Linked DNA regions of Homo sapiens. The protein of the gene in region 1 interacts with the protein of each later gene in a biochemical or structural test. Each region holds a gene or a part of one and is shown on either strand. Other genes may lie near its edges.

Evidence for each region. The genes of interacting proteins can lie anywhere in the genome.
Region 2: the proteins of NR2E1 (region 1) and RERE form a complex in vitro, tested with the Homo sapiens proteins (one study listed by BioGRID).

What each region holds. Positions count from the first base shown.
Region 1 is NC_000006.12:108,175,688-108,183,138, forward strand, and holds part of NR2E1 (nuclear receptor subfamily 2 group E member 1), read left to right. Parts: intron 1-815; coding exon 816-1,051; intron 1,052-2,407; coding exon 2,408-2,554; intron 2,555-4,635; coding exon 4,636-4,732; intron 4,733-5,119; coding exon 5,120-5,269; intron 5,270-5,858; coding exon 5,859-5,964; intron 5,965-7,451. UniProt on the Homo sapiens protein: Orphan receptor that binds DNA as a monomer to hormone response elements (HRE) containing an extended core motif half-site sequence 5'-AAGGTCA-3' in which the 5' flanking nucleotides participate in determining receptor specificity.
Region 2 is NC_000001.11:8,814,349-8,821,987, reverse strand, and holds the start of RERE (arginine-glutamic acid dipeptide repeats protein), read left to right. Parts: upstream 1-4,347; 5' UTR 4,348-4,828; intron 4,829-7,639. UniProt on the Homo sapiens protein: Plays a role as a transcriptional repressor during development. May play a role in the control of cell survival. Overexpression of RERE recruits BAX to the nucleus particularly to POD and triggers caspase-3 activation, leading to cell death.

The sequences.
Region 1 (7,451 bases):
CACCGTGGGGCCTGGGAACAGGGTGCGAGTGGGTTTTGCTGTGAGGCGGCCCGGGCCGGGTGGCAGCTCCAGGAGGAGAGAGAGCCCCTTCCTCTGCGGCGCAGGAAGCCGGAGGGAGCGTCCAACCTGTTGAACTTGTGTATTGACAAGTTGTCAAGCTCGGCAGGCCGAAGATTGCCCTGAATTAATTTGTTTGTTTAAACTGTTGGTGGTAATTGTCACATCTCCCCTGCCTTTCTCCAGCATACTCGGAGACGGGTTCTCCCTCGTTCCATTCCCTAGCAATCCCGGGGCTCGGGTCCTTTCCTCCTGCGGCCCTCGGAGGCCAAAAGCTATTTCTGTGGGGGCGGGGCCTGCGGGTAGGGAGGCTTGTTCTTGGACGGAGCTGGAAAAGTCTGCGCAGAAACGAGGTGTCTGGCGTGCGCGACGCTCCCTCTCTTTTGGATGGGGGCGAGGATACCTGGCTACTCCAGCCCAGAGGGTCTCTGGTTTCCCTGCGAACCCCCTTCCCTGGTGGGGAGGAGCCCTGGACCGAAGGAGAACACACCTGGTCTTACTTGAGGCTCTGCCATTATCGTGGCACTTTGAGCACGGGCCCCTCTTCTAAGCCTCAGCTTCCGAATCTATTCAGTGTAGTGGTTAGACGATCTCAGAATCCCTTCCTCCCTCAGATTCCCTCTCCCTTCTTCTTTTCACCTCTTGGGCGATTTTGCCCGCCCAGACTTGACATTGGGGCGGGGCTGGGGGGAGAGCCGCAGCGGCTGTGTCTCGACGTCTCTAATCGCCGGCATGCGTTTCTCTGTTTGCCTCTGCAGCCGTGCAGCACGAGCGGGGGCCTCGGACGTCCACCATCCGCAAGCAAGTGGCCCTCTACTTCCGTGGACACAAGGAGGAGAACGGGGCCGCCGCGCACTTTCCCTCGGCGGCGCTCCCTGCGCCGGCCTTCTTCACCGCGGTCACGCAGCTGGAGCCGCACGGCCTGGAGCTGGCCGCGGTGTCCACCACTCCAGAGCGGCAGACCCTCGTGAGCCTGGCTCAGCCCACGCCCAAGGTCAGCGGCCTTGCTGGGCCCAAAGAGACTCGTGCCAGCGAATGGAGAGGGACGCACCCAGTTCTTCTGAGCTGTGTGATTGGGGTCAGGCAAACTGGGGAGAGAACTCCAGGGTGCTTGGCGGGTCTCTGCATGGAGCTCCAGCCCTTCTGCTCTCCCTTGTTCAGCCAGGGGTGCTCAAACTTGAGTGTACAGTAGAGTCAACCTCCGAGTGGCTACAAGTGTGCACTCCGGATCTTATCCCCCCAGAAATTTCATTTCAGCAAGTTTGGGGTGGAGGCCAGGAACCTGCACCTTTAGGAAACACCCACTGGTAATGGGTGGTGGGTGGAGACCTCGTCTAAACCCAGAGGGCAGCCTCAGGTGTTCCTAAAGACCAGAAGAACCAACGTTCATTTTTAGAGGAGAGGAATTGGCTACAGCTGGAGGAAGGGCTCCAGAATTCCAAATCTTGGCATGTATGATCTTGGGCAAAGCCATGAGTTTCTAACGCAAGTGCGAAATGTGGAGATCACACTGTTAGAACAGTTTGAGGAATCTGAGTTCATTTCCCATGCTCCCCTCACCTACTTCTGAGGCAGGTGGATTTACAGCAGGGTTGATTCCATAGGAGCAGGGCCACAGCCTGAACCACCTGGAAAGGCTGCCACCTAAGGCCTACCCTCCAGGCCTACAGCTGATACCTACTAACACCCCCACTCCAGGCTGATGAGGGCCTAGGATCTCCCTCAGAGGAGGGCCAGCTGCAGCCCCACACTGCAGGGAAGCCAGACACCTGGGCACATGCACACGCACAATATTTAATATGGCTTTCTTACCCTTGATGTGTATAATAAGCTCTGGAAAGTAGTGTTATGAATATGTTGTCAGTTATGAATGGGAATGCTCTGTGAATGATTAAGATGTCTAATTGAAATATTTCCATAATATACTAATCCTTTCTAAAAATACTCATATGCATATTTGTGTTTGGGATGCCTATTAATTTATACTTTTTCACATCTATTTTTATTTACACAAATGCAAGCAGCTCTTGTCTAAATTGGGAGCCAGGCTTGGCACTTGGCTCAGCCCAAGGAAAATTTGCTGCAGGGGATAGAAAAGCCAGAGGGCCTTCTGGAAGGGAGAGGCTCCCAAAGAGTGGAAATGGACCTCCCCCAACCAGTATTACTTTTCAAACTCTATAGACAGCGATGTTTGATTTTTTTACCCACCAATGTCAACTGCATGTTTAAACAAAACATCCAAATTCTTTTTTATCCCCTTCCTTGCTTTAATTAGAAATTAAAAGTTTGGTTCTTCTTGCAAAGCTGTGGTTTCCTCACTTCCAGGTGTCTTTCTTTCTTCCCTACCCAGTACCCCCATGAAGTGAATGGGACCCCAATGTATCTCTATGAAGTGGCCACGGAGTCGGTGTGTGAATCAGCTGCCAGACTTCTCTTCATGAGCATCAAGTGGGCTAAGAGTGTGCCAGCCTTCTCCACGCTGTCTTTGCAAGACCAGGTATGACCACACTGAGGCCTTGGGAGAAAGAGAGCTGGGAAAGAAGCAGTAGCACTCAGCCTTATAAAACTTCCTCTATCCCTGGGTAAACCACCCAAGGCAGGCATCCATTCTTAATAGCAGTGAGGAAACTACTTGTTTTTACTTGCTTCTTCCTGTGGGTTCAAAATATCTACCTATATGATCCTTAGTAAGAAACGTAATTACATTATTTCAGAAAGGATGGGTCCAGTCTGTGAAAACACACATACAAGAACATTACCTCTTTTTGTTTGATTGGAACAGCAAATATAATCTCAAATTTTAAAATTGTAATGATTTTCTAAAACTGTTGATGAAACAATGTTTTACTAAGAACATTGGAACTGAGAGAAGTAGAAGGTGGTAAGAGTATGCCCTCATGAGATTTTTCAGAACTGATGTTATTATTTTATATTCCCAGCTTTATATTCTCCATTGCGATGCTCCCAGTTTTGGTCATTAATTGATAAGCATGTAAAACCAAAGGGCACAGTGCACACCTCCTGTAGGCTAGGTTCTTCCTTGATTCTTCATGTACTTTTAGACATTTTGTAAACAAATAGGCATTTTGCTTAATTCCGTGGTTGTAAATGACATTCAGGGGAAGAAAAAGTGTGTGCAGTGAAACATTGTATTGTACTGAGACCCAGAAATTTTGTTGATAGGAATATTAGAAATGCTAACATTTTTCTAACCTTAAAGGAAAGAAAGAAAATAAAGTGTTCCCAACCATTGGCTGTTACCAGTGCATTCACAGGAATTAATGACAAATTTTCCAAAGGCTAATAAGTAGTTCTAAAAGCAAAGGATTTATTTCTTCAATTCATTTCATACCTAATTAAAGCATAATAGTGCCCCTTTATATGAAGTATGTTTCCTACGGAAAGATCGGGCAATGTGCTAAAAGCATTTCATTTTCTAGCATGAGATGTTCTTGTTTTCATGGCCTGCCCTTTCAAATATGGCCAGAATTAAATATTGTTTACCTTGCATTTTATAATTATTTCCTGTACTTGATGGAATAAAACTAAAAATAAAACATTAAAAAAATTAAACCCTTTGGTCTAATTGTGATTTTGGTTACAAGCCTTCATGATTCAGCTCTTAGCTCCCAAAAGAAATCCTTTTACATAAATCATTTAGAGTTGACTGGCTTTTGAGTTTTGAGATTTTTAAAGGTAGTTAGGTCCTATCTTTGACCAGGTTTACTGGTTAGCTCTAACCACTTCCTGTGTGTGTGTGTGTGTGTGTGTGTGTGTGTGTGTGTGTGTAGACTGGCTATTTTTTTTCAAAATAAGTATTTGTATACTCTCACCCAAACAAAATTTACTTACTGTCTGCCACTTAGCCCTTTGGTAGAAATCCTTCGACAACAAGCAACCTGCAGTGAAGTGGAATCTGGTATATTAATTTGGAAAAAGAGACAGATTTTCATTTTAAATATTCAGTAGCACATTTTATTAGAATAAAAATGACAAGCACCTTGATGCTGTCCATTTATGGGTCTCAGAAAAATCAAGCAGTGAGACGAGGAAAACTCAGCAAAACCCGATTAACATAATTACACCCTGATTTCCCCCAGTGCCTCTTGGGAATTAGTGATCTCTGTCTCTCTCCCAGCCCAGCCCCCTCAACCCTCCAGGAAGATGGGGACCCAGCTCTGCAAGCGTCTGAGGAATCCTCAACCCTGCTAATAGCAGCATTCTCTGTGAGGGGAATCCACCTGCTGAGCTGCTGGCATTTCATAAAGCCTCGCTCTCTAGAGGAGCTTCTAGGTGGTCAGGAATGGGTGGATACAAGGACAAGAGGGGCAAATCCTTTTCTGAGAGAAGGAAACTTTGGAGAATTGGAATGGCTGACTCTCAAATCCATATGCATATCTATAGGCACCTTTTCAAAAGGAAAATATGGGAAAATAAGGGAAAGCTAGAATATTCAGAAAAAATTACCAAGACAGGCATTTAAAACACTTTTTAAAATAATGGAAATTTACATAGTGAAATTGTTTATAAATTTATAAATTACACACTATATTATATTATACATCTATTGTATGACAGCTGATGCTTTTGGAAGATGCTTGGAGAGAACTGTTTGTTCTAGGAATAGCACAATGGGCCATTCCGGTTGATGCTAACACTCTACTGGCTGTATCTGGTAAGAATTGCACAATTTAATGACTTTGTTGTAGAAATTACCATAAAAATACATTACTGAAAAAAGAACAACATGTAAAGAATAACAAATTCCTGCTGAACAATAGAGTATACCTGTCATTTATAAATCTATATTTAAATGCAAATAATGTTGTTTTGTTGTATTCATGACTGCTTGCATTGTTATTTAAATGCAAATTACTGTGTTTGTTATCATCCAAGAGAAGATTTTATATTAACTTTCATACAATATAGCCGGTTTACATGGAATCAGATATCTTAGAGTGACAATTGAATAGATATTGATATGCAGGATTTTGTCAAAAATCAATATTAAATCATGAAAATGCCTTCATATTAGAGTATTTATCCCATATTTTTATTCTAGGCATGAACGGTGACAACACAGATTCCCAGAAGCTGAACAAGATCATATCTGAAATACAGGCTTTACAAGAGGTGGTGGCTCGATTTAGACAACTCCGGTTAGATGCTACTGAATTTGCCTGTCTAAAATGCATCGTCACTTTCAAAGCCGGTAAGCAGACACAGACCCCTGTTTCTTCTCCTTCCCCAGTTTTGCCACCTCACTAATTCAGCCACCTCGAAGTCTGAACTGACCTTTGCAAAAAGAGGTGATGGTTTTCAAGGGAGCTGATACTCTTAATCTGGCCCCATTTTTTATTGCTATGGGAACCTGCATGTTCTGCTGGGCATCAACTTCCAGAGAGGTGCATTCCCAGACCCAATTTCTTTTTTTCTTTCTTTTTTTTTATTTTTTAAATTTTTGTGGAGATGGTGTCTTGCTCTTGTCACCCAGGCTGGAGTCCAATGGCACCATCTCAGCTCACTGCAACCTCTGCCTCCTGGGTTTAAGCAATTCTCCTGCCTCAGCCTCCCAAGTAGCTGGGATTACAGACACATGCCACCATGCCTGGCTAATTTTTGTATTTTTAGTAGAAACAGGGTTTCACCATGTTGGCCAGGTTGGTCTCGAACTGCTGACCTCAAGTGATCCGCCTGCCTCGGCCTCCCAAAGTGCTGGGATTACAGGCGTGAGCACTGCGCTCGGCTCCCAGATGCAATTTCTATGCTGTCTATCACAGTTTCCTGGTCTTCATTTCTAGTTCCTACACATAGTGGTTCTGAACTGAGAAGTTTCCGGAATGCTGCCGCCATTGCAGCCCTTCAAGATGAGGCTCAGCTAACGCTCAACAGCTACATCCATACCAGGTGACCCTTGTTTGCCTTGAACATGTACTTAAGAAAATTGCCTCCATTGTGAATGCCTGAGCAGGCGGTAATAAGCCAGTTCAAACATTGTGACTAATTATCTTGTTGCCAGCCAGTTAATTTAGGGAGAATCCATGTCCTTACCTATCTCTCAGGGTGGGTGAGAGGAGCAAATCTAATTAGATGATCAAAGTGAAAGCACTGCCAGACATATTACAGTTGTCCTGGCGGAACAAATTGATCCATCAAAATAATGGAACAACATTTGTGTGAATGGGTATGGAGGGGTCAAAAATGAAGCCTAGGCTGGGCACAGTGGCTCACGCCTGTAATCCCAGCACTTTGGGAGGCCGAGGTGGGTGGATCACGAGGTCAGAAGATCGAGACCATCCTGGCTAACACAGTGAAACCCCGTCTCTACTAAATAATACAAAAAAATTAGCTGGGTGTGGTGGTGGGCACCTGTAGTCCCAGCAGCTACTCGGAAGGCTGAGGCAGGAGAATGTCGTGAACCTGGGAGGTGGAACTTGCAGTGAGCCGATATTGTGCCACTGCACTCCAGCCTGGGCGACAGAGCGAGACTCCGTCTCAAAAAAAAAAAAAAAAAAAAAGAAGCTCAAAGTGTAATGGTTGGTATGTGAGAGAGTGGCCACATCATCCTTGAGAAAACACAGGTGACTTTCTTCAGATGCCAATCTCAAATAAAAGGATGAGAGAACTTTCCAGAGAGGCTATCTTTTTTTTTGAGACAGGGTCTTGCTCTGTTGCCCAGGCTGGAAGGCTGAAGTGCAGTGGCATGTGAGCATGGCTCACTGCAGCCTTGAACTCATGGGCTCATGTGATCCTCCCACCTCAGCCTATTGAGTAGCTGAGACTATAGGTGCATGCCACCACACCCAGCTAATTTTTTTTTTTTTTTTTTTTTGAGACAGAGTTTCACTCTTTCACCCAGGCTGGAGTGTAGCGGTGCAATCTCGGCTCACTGCAACCTTCGCCTTCCGGGTTCAAGTGATTCTCCTGCCTCAGCCTCCCAAGTAGCTGGGATTACAGGTGCCTGCCACCACGCCCAGCTAATTTTTGTATTTTCAGTAGAGACGGGGTTTCACCGTGTTGGCCAGGCAGGTCTCGAACTCCTGAACTTGTGATCTGCCTGCCTTGACCTCCCAAAGTGCTGGGATTACAGGTGTGAGCCACCATGCCCGGCACACCCAGCTAATTTTTAAACTTTTTATAGAGACAAGGTCTTGCTATGTTGCCCAGGCTGGTCTCGAACTCCTGGCCTCAAGTGATCCTCCCACCTAAGTCTCCCAAAGTGCTGGGATTACAGGCCTGGGCCACTGTGCCCAGCCTAAAGAAGCCATCTTTTCACCTATCATAACTGTTGTTTGGCCTTGGTGACTGGTATCTGTTATTTTGTGTCATAACATCTACCAGGTTACTTCTGGCCATGCAGGGCCCACAGGCAGAGGCTGTTTTTGGCTGTTTGT
Region 2 (7,639 bases), on another chromosome or scaffold:
ACTGGCAGTGGGGAAGAAAGAAGTGCTGCTGGAGGCTCAACCTGAAAAAGTGCAACGGGAGATATAGCTGAGGCTCGTTATTGGCTTATATTTGCACTACATAAACTTGGAAGCCAATTTCATAGAAAATGCCTAGAAACAAGCTTCAGTCTGCTACAAGGCCTGCTAAAGCACCCTAGTTCTGCTTAAGGCATTTTAGGGGAAAATAATTTACATGTTCTAAAGCTTGAGTACTGCTGGTGAATTATGAAGACTAGTTACCAGCTGTATGTTCAAAGAACTTGAATGGTTTTTTTTAATTATAAGAATTATCCATGCTTGATATGAAAAGAAAAAAGTCCTTGTCTCTAAAAAAAATTAAAATAAATGATTAAAAAAGTGAAACCACTAAACCACAATTTCTTAGGTTGAGTTTACTGGTGTTTATTTTATTATTATCCCCCTCAACCTATGTACACATAATGTATATTCTTTTGTCTATGCCAAATTTTTATGATTTTAAAAAATGAAATCAAAAGTATTAGAAGAACACTAAAACTTTTTCAAATCATGGATTGAAGAAGCTCTTTCTAACATGGCAGGAAATCCAGACGCCATAAAGGAAAAAACACCAATAAATTTTACTGCATAAATATTTCACATCCCTATAAGGCATAAAAACACCATAGCAATGCAAGAAACAGGCAGACTGGGGAGAAACATTTTCAACACGTATAAGCAAGGGCTAACTTCCTTTTTTTTTTTCCTTTGAGACAGGGTCTCACTCTTGTCACCAGGTTGGAATGCAGTGGCATGATCACAGCTCACTGCAGCCTCAACCTCCCAGGCTGAAGCCATCCTCCCACCTCAGCTTCCCAAATAGCCTGGACTACAGGCATGTGCCATCACACTCAGCTAATTTTTAAAATTTTTTTGTAGAGATGGGGGTCTCATTATGTTGCTCAGAGTAGTCTCAAATTCCTGGGCTCCAAAAAAAAAAAATTTCAATTAAAAAAATAAAGAAATCCACCTGTGATTTTGGGGGTGGGGTGTGTTAGGAGTAATATGAATCTAGTGGGTGTGTGTTGTTGTTTTTTGTTTCCCCATATAGCTATCTTGTTGTCCCAATATCATTTATTAAATAATCCCCATTTTCCATCTTCCTTTAATACAGCTCTGATGTGATCTCTGTATATTTAAAAAAAAATCACTTCTTACCTGTAGTAAGATACATAAAATAACTAAAAAAAGTCCTTGATATTTTCAGATTCAATAACTACTTTATTTACTTAATTCCCACTTAAAAATATTGCTGAAAAGAGAATAAGGAAACTTTTAAAAATTTAATATGGGAAAAAAATCCAAGTCGGTATTTTACGTCTTTAATCTTCAGCTAGTTCTTTAACTTCCGTAAGCCCCAGTTCCTTGACTTTTAAAATGGAGATAATAAGCCGGGAGCAGTGGCTCACGCCTGTAATCCCAGCATTTTGGGAGGCTGAGGCGGGCGGATCATCTGAGGTTGGGAGTTCGAGACCAGCCTGACCAACATGGAAAAACCCTGTCTCTACTAAAAATACAAAATTAGCTGGGCATGGTGGCACATGCCTGTAATCCCAGCTGCTCAGGAGGCTGAGGCAGGAAAATCGCTTAAACCCGGGGGTCAGAGGTTGCGGTGATCTGAGATCGCGCCATTGCACTCCAGCCTGGGCAACAAGATCGAAACTGTCTCAAAAAAAAAAAAAAAAAAAAAAAGAGATAATAATAATACACTTCATGGGGAGAAAAAGTGGGCTAAAGAATGTAACATGTTTCTTAGGGCACTGGGAACATAAGCTTTCAATCAATAGTTTAATAGTTGTTCTTAACGATGAAGATTATTTTACTGCATTATCAGCTTCTCAGATCCTTGGAAGGAGGTCCAGTACTCTCCGGCTTTATGGCTGGACCACAATTCTTTCGTGGGACTGTTACAGTTAAATGGGTTTAGTTTGCTAATTTTGTGGTCTGATACCATATATTATGCTTTGTAACTATGTGGCATTTCTGGACTTCTAAATTTACATTTTTATGGATAAATGAAAGTGACGGCCAATCCCTAATACCATAGTAAATGTTATTTCCTAACGTGGAGAGCCTCTCTCCTCCCTGCTGGATGGCAGTGCATTGTCCATTTGTCTACCACAGAGCTGAATCTTTATTAGAAATAATGCTCCTGTAAGTTTCGAGACCAGCCTGGGCAACATAGTGAACCTCCATCTCTACTAAAATTACAAAAGTTAGTTGGGTGTGGCGGCACACACCTGTAATTTCAGCTACTCAGGAGGCTGAGGCAGGAGAATCGCTTCAACCGAGGAGGTGGAGGTTGCAGTGAGCTGAGATCGTGCCACTGCACTCCAGCCTGGGCAACAGAGCGAGACTCTGTCTCAAAAAAAAAAAAAAGAAAAAAAAGAAAGAATGCTCCTGTAGATAGAGATTTTGATGGAAAGTGAAGCCATCTAACTGATATACTTTATCCCTCATCATTTCCAAACAGGAAGTCAGATAGTCCTATCCATATCTAGAATGTTGGAAGCAGTTTATTGAATTTATTAGGTTTTAAAATTCAGTTCTCACATTATCAGATATATAAAGAGATATTAACTAGTTTCCCCATTTCATAACTCCAGCAAAGAGGATTTTTCTTGCTGAAAGTTACTCAGAAATGTGATGGCAAGGATCTATGGCTTTTTTTTTTTTTTTTAAGATCTCTTGGGTCATGGTCCAATAGTATCTGTTAGTCCAAATTATTCTTTAAAGAATAATTGAATGTGGGCCGGGTGCGGTGGCTCACGCCTGTAATTCCAGCACTTTGGGAGGCTGAGGCGGGCGGATCACCTGAGGTCAGGAGTTCGAGACCAGCCTGACCAACATGGAGAAACCCCATCTCTACTAAAAATACAAAATTAGCTGGGTGTGGTGGCGCATGCCTGTAATCTCAGCTACTCGGGAAGCTGAGGCAGGAGAATCGCTTGAACTGAGGAGGCGGAGGTGGCGGTGAGCCGAGATCGCGCCATTGCACTCCAGCCTGGGCAACAAGAGTGAAACTCCCTCTCAGAAAAAAAAAAAAAATGAATAATTCAATGTGGAAATTATAATCTGAATAGATTTTCCAAGGAGAAAATTATCACTTCTTTTGAAACAGATGAGTGAATTATTTTGTGCTACGTTTTCTACCCCTTATTTTATACGGACCTTAACTCCTTCGGGAAGAGTGTATGGTATAAGGACACCAATAAGCATTTACAGAATATTAACAAACCAACAATAGGTTGATGATTCACCCTGGATTCGTGCCAGGCTCTGTGAAAGAACTCAATAAACATGATGTGCATTTCAAAAACTGCTAATCATAATTGAAATTTCCAAACCCCTCAATCCCATAAATTATATGAACTAGAATATGATCATTTGGCCTGCCCCTACTCCCTTTACAGCATGATAGACCCTGTGATTATCAGGCTTTCGGGAAGTGGGACACAATACTTCATTCTTCAAAGAAAAAGAGGTGATGTTTGGTCTTTTCCTCTTTTTAGATTTTTTTTCACACGTACCTTATAGAGTTGTACACTGCTCTTTCTAAAATCCCTTCTGTACCTGTACAGTCTCTCCTTTATGCCTTCATGACACTTTTTATTCTTTTCAAATAAGCAGTGCGACTTATCACTTTTATTTTTCTTTCTGTAATTCATCTTTTGTCATGTACACTATTTGAAAAATATTACAAGCCGCTCATCAGAATTTCGAAAGAGTCCATATGAGAATGGTTTACACCCACTCTGTAGCCCGCAGCAACATGGATCCGCGTCCTAATGACTGAAAAGGCCAATTAAGACCCGGGTAACAGCAAGATCAACCGGACTTCCCCCCACCCCACCCGGGACCTGCCCGCGCCGCCAGCCCGGCCCAGCCCGGGGGGCGCGGGGGGCGGTACTGGAGCGCGGCGGGCGGCGGAGGAGGGCCGGCCTCGCACTCTCACAAAGACGCGCCCGCGGCGGGAGCCCAGCCCACCGCCTCTGGCCGCCGCCTGCAGCGCGAGCCCTCGAGCCCCGGGCCGCGGCGTTGTCAAGGCTCGGCCTCTCTCCGCCTTCTTCTCTGCTCATTTTATTAAAAAGATTAAAAAAAAAAAAAAAAAAAAAAAAAAAAGGAAAAAGAGATCCCGCCTCCTCCGCCTCCCATTGGCCGGGCCCCCGGCCGCGTCACACCGCGCTGTACCAATGGAGGGGCGCGATACTGCGAGGTGGGCCGGGCCCGAGCGGGGAGTGGGCGGCGGGTCGGTGCAGCAGCTCCGCCGCGGCTCCGCCACCATCGCGGAGGTGCCGCTGTTCCCACAGACGCTCGCGAGCAACCCTCCGCGCTCCGGAGCCTCCTCAGCCTCCCGCACACCCCGAGACGCTCGCCCCGCTGGGCCTCGGTCCCCGCCTCCTCCCCCGTCCTTTTCCCCTCTCTCGCTCCCCACATTGTCTCTGCCTCATTTTCTCTCCTAGTTGAGGATTAAAAAAAAAAAAAAATCACCATCATCCTCAGGGAGCCCCCTCGCCCTCGGAAAACAAAACCAGACATGATCCTGGGCTCCTGCTTCTGAAAGATCTGCCCGACCGAGGAGGAGGGAGCCTAGGTTCAAGTCGCAGGAAAGGTCACGGCAGGGAAGCCCCCTCAGCCCCTCCGCGTCGCCTCCCCGCGGGCCGCCCCTCTCGGCCCTGCGCCCCGCGGCCCCGCAGCCTCCGCGCGGCCTCCCGCCCCATCCCCGCCACTTTCCCCGGAGCTGGGCCGCGAACACCTCACTATTGATGGTGTAGCGCTTTAGGGGAAGGTAAGTGTCCAACTTGCCCGCGCCGGGTCGTGTGCTTTCTTTTTTGGCCCCTCGTCCTGGTGGTCAGAGAGGGTCGGCCGTGAAAGCAGTCACTCGCCCGGGGGGAGGCAGGAAGAAAAGGCTGGGGTCGAAGCCGAAGTCGAGGGGAGTCGGGCGAGGGCAGGGCACTTCTTTGGTCCTGTCCGGGCCAGGTGACCGTTCCTGCGTGCCTTCTGACCCCTGCTCTCTCTTGGCCTCTTATTCATGCTCTTGTTCTACTTGTTTGAGGTTAAACTATTTCATGTGACTACATTATTGGCTGAAACTGGAAGGGAAGGAAGTCAAGGACTGAAACTGTAAATTTCTTGAATGTTTGTGGATTTCGGGGTGCTGGGGGGAGGACTTTATTATTAAAGTATCATTTTCTCATTGGGGGAAGATTTCCTCTTTGTGCTCCCAATCTCTAGTTCTCAGCTGTATGTGATTAGAAAATTATGAAACCCAAAGTCACTTGCAGCAGAATAGAATTCTTACTATCCTGTTTTAGTTCTGCTCTCTGAAGGAGGGTGGCTTCTATTTATTACTAATTTTTAAGATGATGGAAAGATTCGTAGTTTTACATACACGTGTGTATGTGTGTCTGCTAGGAGGGGGGAAAAGTGTTGCAGGCTTCCTTTGAAACTGGTTGCTTGAGAAGTTGTTGAAAGGAAAACAGAATGATTCATTGTTGAATTGTCATTTTCCTCTGTCTCTTTTCCAAGGTTTGCTTACAATTTTTCTGGATTACAGACTTCAAACATTGATTTAAGTAAAATGGGTCCTTGAGAAACTGGGTGCTTTAAATGTTTCAGTATCTGTTGCTTTTTTAAGGTACATTTAGAAAGTAGTTTTGTATGAATCGTGAAATAGCCTTCTTCACAGCGAATTTTTAAACGCAAAAAAAGATAACTAGTAAGAGGGTGAACTTGGTGAATTACAAAATAGACATTTTAATATAGCAGGAATTGATGCATCTAAGATTTGAAACAGTTTTCATAATTGCTTTCCATTTAAAGAGAGACCTTTTTGTCTAGTGTACACTGGTCTTTTTAGTCTCAGTCTGTTGGGGGAGGGGAGAGAAGCTGGATCTGTACAATAATAAAATCATCTTTGGGTTGATATTTTGTTCCATGGATTTGCTTGCTGAGTTAATACTACTGTAAATTATCAACCAGTTTTGATTTTGATGGCCTGGGATGGGTGGAAAGCTGGCTTCCAGCTCTCCCTGTTGTTGTTGAGGTCGAAGGGAAAAGAGGCAGAGGCAGACAGACACACATATACACACACACACACACACATACACACACACACAATACCAAGCTGAGGGCTCATTGTTCTTCCATACACACATTCATTCTCTCTCTCCCATATTTGGGACTAGGTTTGCACAGACAAACACAGCTCTTTTTGGGAGAGAAGAGAGAAGATGGGGGAAGGGAGGGTGCTTTTCTGTTACAGCTTTCTTCCACCCATCTCATGCCTGGCCGTTTTTGCAACCTTGTGAGGCAGAAGAGTGCATTGGAAACTAAAGGACACTCAAAAACATGTTCAGAGACTTCTCTTCTCTCTGCCTCCCTTTATTCCTTTTGCAGCCGTGGTTTCTGCTGCTCTTTCTTTTTTGTATATGTAAAGATAAAATCCCTCTTTATATGTTGTGGCCTTACGTTCAGCTCTCATTGCTTTTGTATTTCTCATTGACCCTGATTTTGTTGGGGACAGTGATTTGTTCACTTGAGTCTTAGTAGTGAATGTGAGCAGAGTCTTTCTAGATAGAAATAGATTTTATTGATTAATATTATAAAGGTTGTATTGAGGTTAATATTTAGCAAGATGATGTTTGCATGTTTTTAGTGGTGTGATGGTTTGATGGTCAGGTTTGCTGGCAATTGAGCTGTCAATGTTGTTTTTGTAAATAAGGGTTATAAGAAAAGATCTGGTTTTCTGTTTAGGGGGCTCCTTTGAATACTGGACAGGGAATAGGCTAGTCCACCTGGGATAAACCCAGCTGTGGCCCAAGGATGGAGGTTGGTGTGAATACATGTGGGTTGCAGAATAGCACCTTCTACTGGTTAATTGTTTGGAAAGATCCAGACGAAGAGGATGGGGGAGGGGATTAATGGCTGAGGCTTAATGATTTTCTTTTAAGCGCAGTTGTTGTGCCTTTCTGCAAATGCCACTTCCCCGAGCTGCTAATACAGATGTCCTTTGACAGGCACGGTTGCATTGAGGCATTATTATGTTACTGGTTGTGCTTCGACATTAATTTGTTCTGTTACCAGAAGTATTTACACTTTGTGACTTCCCAGGACTCCTTTGAATGATACCTTCTCATCTTTTATGAGATAATTTCTCTTGAAATATTAAACCAGAGGGTTTATTTCTGTTCCCAGTATTGGAAACTATATACACCAGCAGTCTTTTAAAAAAGTTTTTAGTATCATTAATAAAAAATCAAATAAACCTACTCTATGGAAAGTAAAATTGTAGCACTGGACAGAGGTTTTTCTTGGGATTTAAACCAGGTAGAGGGGTAGAGGAGGAGTTGAAGGAGGGAAATCTCACTAAAATCGGCAATTTTGCAAATGTAGTGGCCTTGCATTGCAGTAGTGTTGTTTTCAGTAGTCTTATAAAGTCTGATAGGGTGACTTATTGTATGGATTAGATAAAGAATTTAAAATTGGAAGCCAGAGAAAATGTGAAATGAGTGTGTACACAAATTATCATAGAAGAGGGTCAAATTGTTGCCCAAAGGCTTGTAAACTAAGGTGCAGTTTCAGAGATAATCTGCTTAAT